Homo sapiens: one gene and its partner. The protein of the gene in region 1 purifies or fractionates together with the protein of each later gene. This does not show direct contact. Each region holds a gene or a part of one and is shown in the gene's direction. Other genes may lie near its edges. The genes, in order: GPC5 and SPCS2.

What was found.
Region 2: the proteins of GPC5 (region 1) and SPCS2 purify together in Homo sapiens (affinity purification with mass spectrometry; one large-scale study listed by BioGRID and IntAct). This does not show direct contact.

What each region holds. Positions count from the first base shown.
Region 1 is NC_000013.11:91,401,429-91,405,256, forward strand, and holds part of GPC5 (glypican-5 precursor), read left to right. Parts: intron 1-3,828. UniProt on the Homo sapiens protein: Cell surface proteoglycan that bears heparan sulfate.
Region 2 is NC_000011.10:74,952,251-74,956,078, forward strand, and holds part of SPCS2 (signal peptidase complex subunit 2), read left to right. Parts: intron 1-3,828. UniProt on the Homo sapiens protein: Component of the signal peptidase complex (SPC) which catalyzes the cleavage of N-terminal signal sequences from nascent proteins as they are translocated into the lumen of the endoplasmic reticulum.

The sequences.
Region 1 (3,828 bases):
TATTTTCTAAGATTATCCTCAATCTCAAGAGAGAACATAATTTAGTCATTTCTCCATGAGAATACAAATAGTAATATCTTTTAACAAATCTATTCATTTAGCACATACCCTTTCACTGACTAAAACAAACACATTTAATTTGATTTTGTTTTTGGAAGTACGTATTTTTACTGCTTTCTTGCATTTCTTGTTCACAGTGGTTAATCCCTGAGATGTCTAGCCAAAACACAGTTTGTATAATATAAGCAGGTAGAATAAGTTTTTAGTTTCTTCCTACCTTTGTGACTTTTACTTTTTCTGATAAAAATGTTATCCAAATTGAAATTATTAAAATTGTGAGAGCAGTGATTTAAACTGTTTCTCAGATTCCCCTCACCTTTGTTCTCTACCCTGCTCCAATTCTTTTAAGCCTATTGAGCTCCTAAGGATGTTTGGATGAGAAATGTAAAAAAGGAGAGAAGGTGTAAATGTGATTAGAATTAGAGATTTCCCTGTGTTCCGATTTTATTTTCTAAGTAGTAGTCAAGGTGCCCTTTGCTCTTGTTTATTTTATTCAGAAAAGAACTGTTACTGAAAGTGTCTTTTAAAGGTCTTTTCATTTTTATTTTATTTATTGGGGATGGGGATAATGCTTTTCTATTAAAATTCTCTTTGCACATGCATTGTGCATTGTTCACACATGCAGTAGTTCCTCTTTTAGAGGGTAGTTCAGAAAGGGGAAGTTCATAAAAAATAATACATTTAGATAATTTATATACCAACTATTTTTTGAAATATGCATGTTTGTTGATATAGAAATCTATAGCAAGTATACTCTCGATATCAAGTAGTCTGTGAAAGTAACTTTTCCTTGGTAGATTTTGGCTATAAATAGAGTAATAAAAATAAACTCTTGACATGGCTAAGTGAAATTTTAATACTAAAAGACACTGTAAGCAGTGCTCTGAAGTTGTTGTTGTTTTTTAAACTGCTTTCATTATAATCAAATCTTATTATTGCTCCAAGGACAGTGTAGTTTCATTCTCACACCTAAGAAAAATGATCTGCTTGGTAACCTTGGAGTTTGGATTTACTGGATAGACATTTGGCTTTCAAAACTTGGTTCTACCACTTGTAGTTCTGCTTCATAGACAAATTATCATCTTGAACCTCTGTTTTCTCATTTAGAAATAGGAATATTCTTAAAAAGTGTTTGCATAGATAAAATGAAATAATGTAAAATGTCACAAATCCAGGCACATAGTAAGTGCTGAAAATATGTTCTTGTTGTCATTATAATTTTTTTGTTTACTGTCTTGATTTTAACTTGATTTTTAAGGATGACATTTTAATTTTAGATCTTTATATATCAAAGATGTTTTTACAATAATGAGTTGGTTTCAAGTCAGAAATGATTATTTTTAAATTTGGGAAATGTATTTTTATCTAAAGTGATATCCGTTACATTATGGTGAATATTTTGTTTATTTTTGTGAACTAATAAACCTCTATGAAACAAGGCTGCGCTGCTGCTAGCTGCAATGCCCATAACCACTGTCTCCACTGCCACACCACCGTTCTTCTGTCTGTAGGGAGGTAAAATAGTGCTTCTAAGGTGGTTTACAGATTCACACAATTAGAATGTTGGTGGCCATAGTCACTCATGGACAGTAATCTGAAATTGCGACTCTATTTCTCATGAAACCAATTTTGCTGTTTGAACAACGTGTTTGTGGGGATCAAATTTCCAAAGCCAGAATTGGGACCCGTCGTCTGACATTGGGGCAGATGATTAACATCAGGATTGCCCTGGGTCGAAGCCCACCAGCCAGGAACCACTGGAAACAAGATTGTAGTAAAATTAGATTCATTTTGTTTGTTGCAGCAAGGGAGATTGCACACCAAAGGGACTCTGGAGAGTTTGGTAGTAGGTAGTTGGGAGGGCTTTTTATAGGATTTGGGCTTGTGGTGGGCTATTATTATAAGGAAGGTTTAATGAAGTGGGGCAATTCAGGAATTGGCTATTTTGGTAACTTTTATCTAGGTGTTAGAAAGATTAAGGTGGGGTAGTTGTCATAAATAAAGAAGCAGTAGTAGCTAGTGCTGGTTAAAAGAGGGGAATGTTTAGTTATTTTTGTGGTTGCAGAGTGCCTTTGTCCTCATCCTTTTATACCACAGGTCCCAAGTGGTCTTGCCTCATCATTGTTTTCTAATTCTGTGCATGTTATTTATCTTGAATTGTGAGCATCAAGGCCCAGTTCCACTTCCAGGACAGTTTGTCACCTTTTCCCTTGGGAAGTCCAGTCTGTGCTTTGATGTCTAAGAGAATCACGTGTTTCATTTTTCTCTAGGCCTTTAGTGCATCTTAATGGTGGAGAAGTGAGTTTGATTTTCTACTTTAGGGTCATAGAATCCAATGGCTCATCAGGTGCTGAACTATACTGATCACACATATTCCCTCATGGGGTTAATTATAACTATTGCTGTCAACTATAAATCTAGTGCATCAACTACAAATATTATATATGTCCCCATTCTCTCTCCATCCCATAATTTAAGTTCCATTTTGCCGAGTGTCCAACATCCTATAGTTGTAAAATTGGCTTAGGAGGGGTACAACTTGAGGAATTTAAGAATAATATTTTCCACTTATCACCCCCCAATCCCTATTATTTTTCCTTGTTTCCAGCCTGTTAAGGCTTTCCGGAAGATGGGTATTTTTGGTGTGTACATGTATGTGTGTGTGTATAATCCACTTTCACATTGTCCTTATATTTGATAAGAACACTTTCTAAATCTACCACATTTCTTTTATAGTTACCTGGTAAGACCAAGAACAACATTCTAGCTAGGTGCCTCAACTAAACAGACATAATTTATAGATGAATGGTCTCTTGGTATAACTGTTCAACCGACAAACAACAGATCTGATTTGTTAAAATGGAGTCATGAGAGACTTGAAACATATGTCTGTTGAAATATATTCTCTGTGAATGTGGTATCTGATCTACTTGGTTAAGTAACAATAGCAATTAATTTTAATAGATAATAGCCATTTTCCATATCTACCTTTCTTTTATAAAGTCCTGACCTTCAACTAGAAGAAAAGGCAGCACTGATTGTGCTCTCAATTCTTGAACTTTTCAGTTTTAGTAAATCTTCCATTTCACTAATGAGATTGCCCAAATTATCCTAAAATGATTATTCATTCCTCTGTGAATCACCACAAACAGCACAGCCCTTGATTAGTTGCATCAGGGCCACATATGGCTACTATGTAAGTTGAATGTGCAGTGTACCTTTATAGAAAGAAAAGAAGATGTTATACTTCCACGTTTTTATGGAAGAATGTATGTTTTCTTAAAAATTTATAAAACTGAAAAGTACAAATAAAGTAAAATAATTTTACCATCCAGAAATAACCACCGAAATGCCTTTGCATTGTCTTTTTAGCATGCTCATCAGCCCCCTGCTAAGCATGACTATTTTTTGAAAGAATATAGAATAATTTCCTTTTTGAAAAACATGGCTTTTCCAATTATGAATGTATCTTTATTTCCCATTTCCCATGCTGTTAAATATCTTTCTAAGCCTGATTTTTTAAAGTGGCTGTACAGTATTGGATTAAATCTCTGTAGCATAAATTAAATTCACCTTTGTCGTTAGAACTGTAGGTTTCCAGTATTCTCTACCATAAAGTCACATACATGGCTGAGGACATCAAAGGCACATGTGCCAAACTCCTACACAACTCATGGCTTTGTACATGATTTACATTACTATACGTTAGGGTTTTTCAGCCTGAGTGCCATTGACATTGGGGGATTGGCAATTCTTTGTTGTGGGGTG
Region 2 (3,828 bases), on another chromosome or scaffold:
GTTTTTGCCATTGAAAGTAATGGCAAAAACCACGATAACTTTTGCACCTACCTAATAAAAGCCACATGACCTTGGATAAGTTGTGTGATATTACTGAATTTAAATTTCCTTATGTAAATATTGTGGACATTCATACATATTATAGGCTTGTTGTAAGGATCAAATTGTATAGTGCTGGTAAATGTTCTTTGGGTTTTTTAGTTTGGTTTCCTCTGCCCTTTTTATTTTATTTTTATTTTTATTTTTGGTAGAGACAAGGTCTCACTGTGTTGCCCAGACTAATCGTGAACTCCTGGCCTCAAGTGATCTGCCCACCTCAGCCTCCCAAAGTACTGGAATTACAGGCATGAGCCACCGCACCCAGCTCTGTTCCCTGTCCTTTGGAATCTACTAGAAGTAAATGTTCTTTGTAAAGGGCTGTCTGTGGTAAAAAATAGAATGACAAGGTGATGAGAACCCCAACATGAGTAGCAGAAATAGATAAAAGGTCTCACAAAAGAGTGCTTGGAAGATTTAACCAATAAGTGAGGGACAGAAGAGAATAGTCAAGAGCTGCTTGAGTGCCTTTTCTTGGAAAACTTAGTTTCAGCCTTACATTGAACTGTTCCCTCCCTGAATTCCTCTAGCACTTACACTGCACATGGGAATTAAGCTGTCACTTAATATGACATACTGTCTTGTATTATTTCACCAATTTGTATTTGCCCGTTTTCCTGTGAGTGCTTCTCTGTAGTGATCAACACAAGATAAGTACTTTTAGCATTGAATTTCGCAGAGAAAAAACTTGAGATCTGCCACCTCAGTCTTCAGAAACAGCTTTAGAGGATGGTGCCTCTAATTGTTTGAAGACTGAGGGTACTGTGGGAGAGAACTTGGGGAAAAAAATGTTATTCTCAGTGGAGCAGGATCTGAATGAATAGAGAGGCTTTTGCTGTGTGGGAATGAGAAGCTATTACCTTTAATATAATTTTTTTTTTTTTTTGAGACAGAGTCTCGATTTGTCGCAATCTCCACTCACTGCAACCCCCGCCTCCCAGGTTCAAACAATTCTCCTGCCTCAGTCTCCCGAGTAGCTGGGATTACAGGCATGTGCCTCCATACCCGGCTAATTTTTGTATATTTAGTAGAGACAGGGTTTCACCATGTTGGCCAGGCTGGTCTCAAACTCCTGACCTCAGGTGATCCAACGGCCTCGGCCTCCCAAAGTGCGGGGTTTACAAGCGTGCGCCACCACACCCAGCCTAATATAATTTATTTAATTTGATGTGTCTTGATTTGGGCGGGGAGGGTTTTTATTTTATTTCTGCAGCTGTAGTTTCACTTGCCATAAAGAAGTGTAATAAAGAGATGCAAATATGCTCCTAGTTTTCCCTAAGCAGATGTGAATTTCTACTCTTATGAAACTGACTTTAAGAACACAGCAATTCTTGTTTCCTGATCTTAAAAATAAGTATGCAAATATAATCTTTCCGCCTCCATCACAGAATAACTTGACTTAGATCATTGCAGTATGTTATTTTGCCCCAAATACATCAAAGCATTTTCTTCTGCCTGGCAGTTATAAAGAAAAGCTGCTTGCTTAATTTGTTTTGGCTATTAAAGTTGATATGTGGTGTTAAACCATGCTTTCCAGAAGCTATTATCTAGACCCTTTTAGCCTTATACCTGGATTTCTGTCTCCTGGCTGGCCTGTCAGCCTGATCTTAAAGCACAGCTTTAATCTGTTTACATCAGACTCCTTTGAGAATTAGTTAAAATTAACAGATTTTTGGACCTTTTTTTAGGCCTGAATATCTGCATTTTTCTTCACATGTCTCTATTACCTCTGCATTTTAACAGTTACCTCCAGGTTGAGAACTACTGGCTTAAATGATTTTTTAAAGTCTCTTCTGGTTCTGACATTTTAAGGTTTTTGTTTTGTTTTTAAAAGCTATTCTGCTTAATAGTGGTTTCTTTAAAATGTTTATAATGAAGAGATCCTGAAACTCATATGATACTTCAGCCTCATTTTGTAGACAAGGACACAAGCAAAGCAACTTGCCCAAGACCACACAGTGAATTAGTAACACTTACAGAACCTGGCTCCCCCAGTGCTTAATCCAGTGCTCTTTCTTTACTCAGCACATTGCTTCCCATACCAGAGTGTGCCTTGTGCTATCTAATGTGCTAGCTAACGTAGTAGTGGGATGAGCATCTGTTGTGAGGTGGAAGACCTAGGCTGTGGCCTTGGCTTTGTCACCCACCAACCATATGTCCTTAGGTATCTCCTCTTTTACTCTACTGGAAGATATCTTAGCTTGTCAGACTTCCAGGTGATATGCTTGTGCCCTGTTACCTAGCTCTGACAAAGAAGATGAACGGTTTTATAACATTACTATAATTGTGTGTGTGTGTTTAATGAAACAAGGTGCTGGCCTTTTAATACTGTTGCAAACTGATCTTTATTAGCGTCTCAAAACTCATTATTTTTTATTTCCTCAAAATAAAAAGTATGTGTGTGTCAAAGGCCACTATCAAGAAAGTGAAAAAAGACAATCTACAGAATGAGAGAAAACATTTTCAAATCATATATCTGATAAGGGTCTAGCATCTAGACTATATAAAGAATTTTACAACTCAGTAATAAAAAGACAGCAACCTAGTTTTTAAAAGGGCAAAAGATGTAAATAGACATTTCTCCATAGAAGACGTACGAATGGCCCATAGCACATGGAAAGATGCGCAACATCATCAGTCATTAGAGAAATGCAAAGTAAAACCACAATGAGAAACCACTTCACGTCCACTAAGATTGCTATAATAAAGGGGGAAAAAAAAGGAAAATAACCTGTTTTGGTGAGAATATGGAGAAATCAGAATCTTCATATATCGCTAACAGGGATGTAAAATGTGGTGGCACTCTTGGAAACAGTTTGACAGTTCCTCAGAAAATTCAACGTAAAGTTAACCATATGACCCAACAATTCCACTCCTAGGTGTATACCCAAGAGAACTGAAAATGTGTGTCCACAGGAAAACTTGGCACACAAATGTTCATAACACAGTTATCATAATGGCCTAAAGGTAGAAACAGTCTGTCAGCTGATGAATGGATAAATGCAATGTGATATATCTATACAATGGAATATAATTTGACCGTTAGAATAAAGTATTGATACATACTACAATATGGATGAATCCTGAAAATGCGCTAAGTGAAAGAAACCGATCACAAAAGGCCATATATAGTATGACTGCATTTGTATATCCATAGAGACAGAAAGTAGATTGTTGGCTGCCCGGGGATAGGGGACAGGAATAAGATGTGACTGCTAATGGGTATGGAGTTTCTTTTTGAGGGTATGCATATATTCTAGAATTAGATAGTGGTGATGGTTGCATAACCTTGTGAGTATACTAAAAACCACTGAATTGGCATTATTTTTAAATAGTGAATTTTATAGTGTGTGAACTATATCGCAATTTTAGAAACTTATTTTTGTCTTTCCTGGAGTAACCCTTAAAGTTTCAAATTATTATTTCTTTAAACTATATGTCATGTAACACAGTGGTATCACAGACACTGATTACTTTAATACTATTACTTTAATTACTAATTAAAATATATATATATATATATATATATATATATATATATCTGCCTGCCTAGGTACCTTTTTCAGCTGTTGCTAGCACCATTTCTCTGCTCTGATCTCCATCTTATCAAATTTCAATAGTAGTTTTTTATATTACTTAGCCTTTCAGTAGCATTTGACTTATTGATCACTTCTTTTTTCTTGAAATACTTTCTTTACTTGGCTTCTAGGACACCACTTGCCCCCAGCTTTC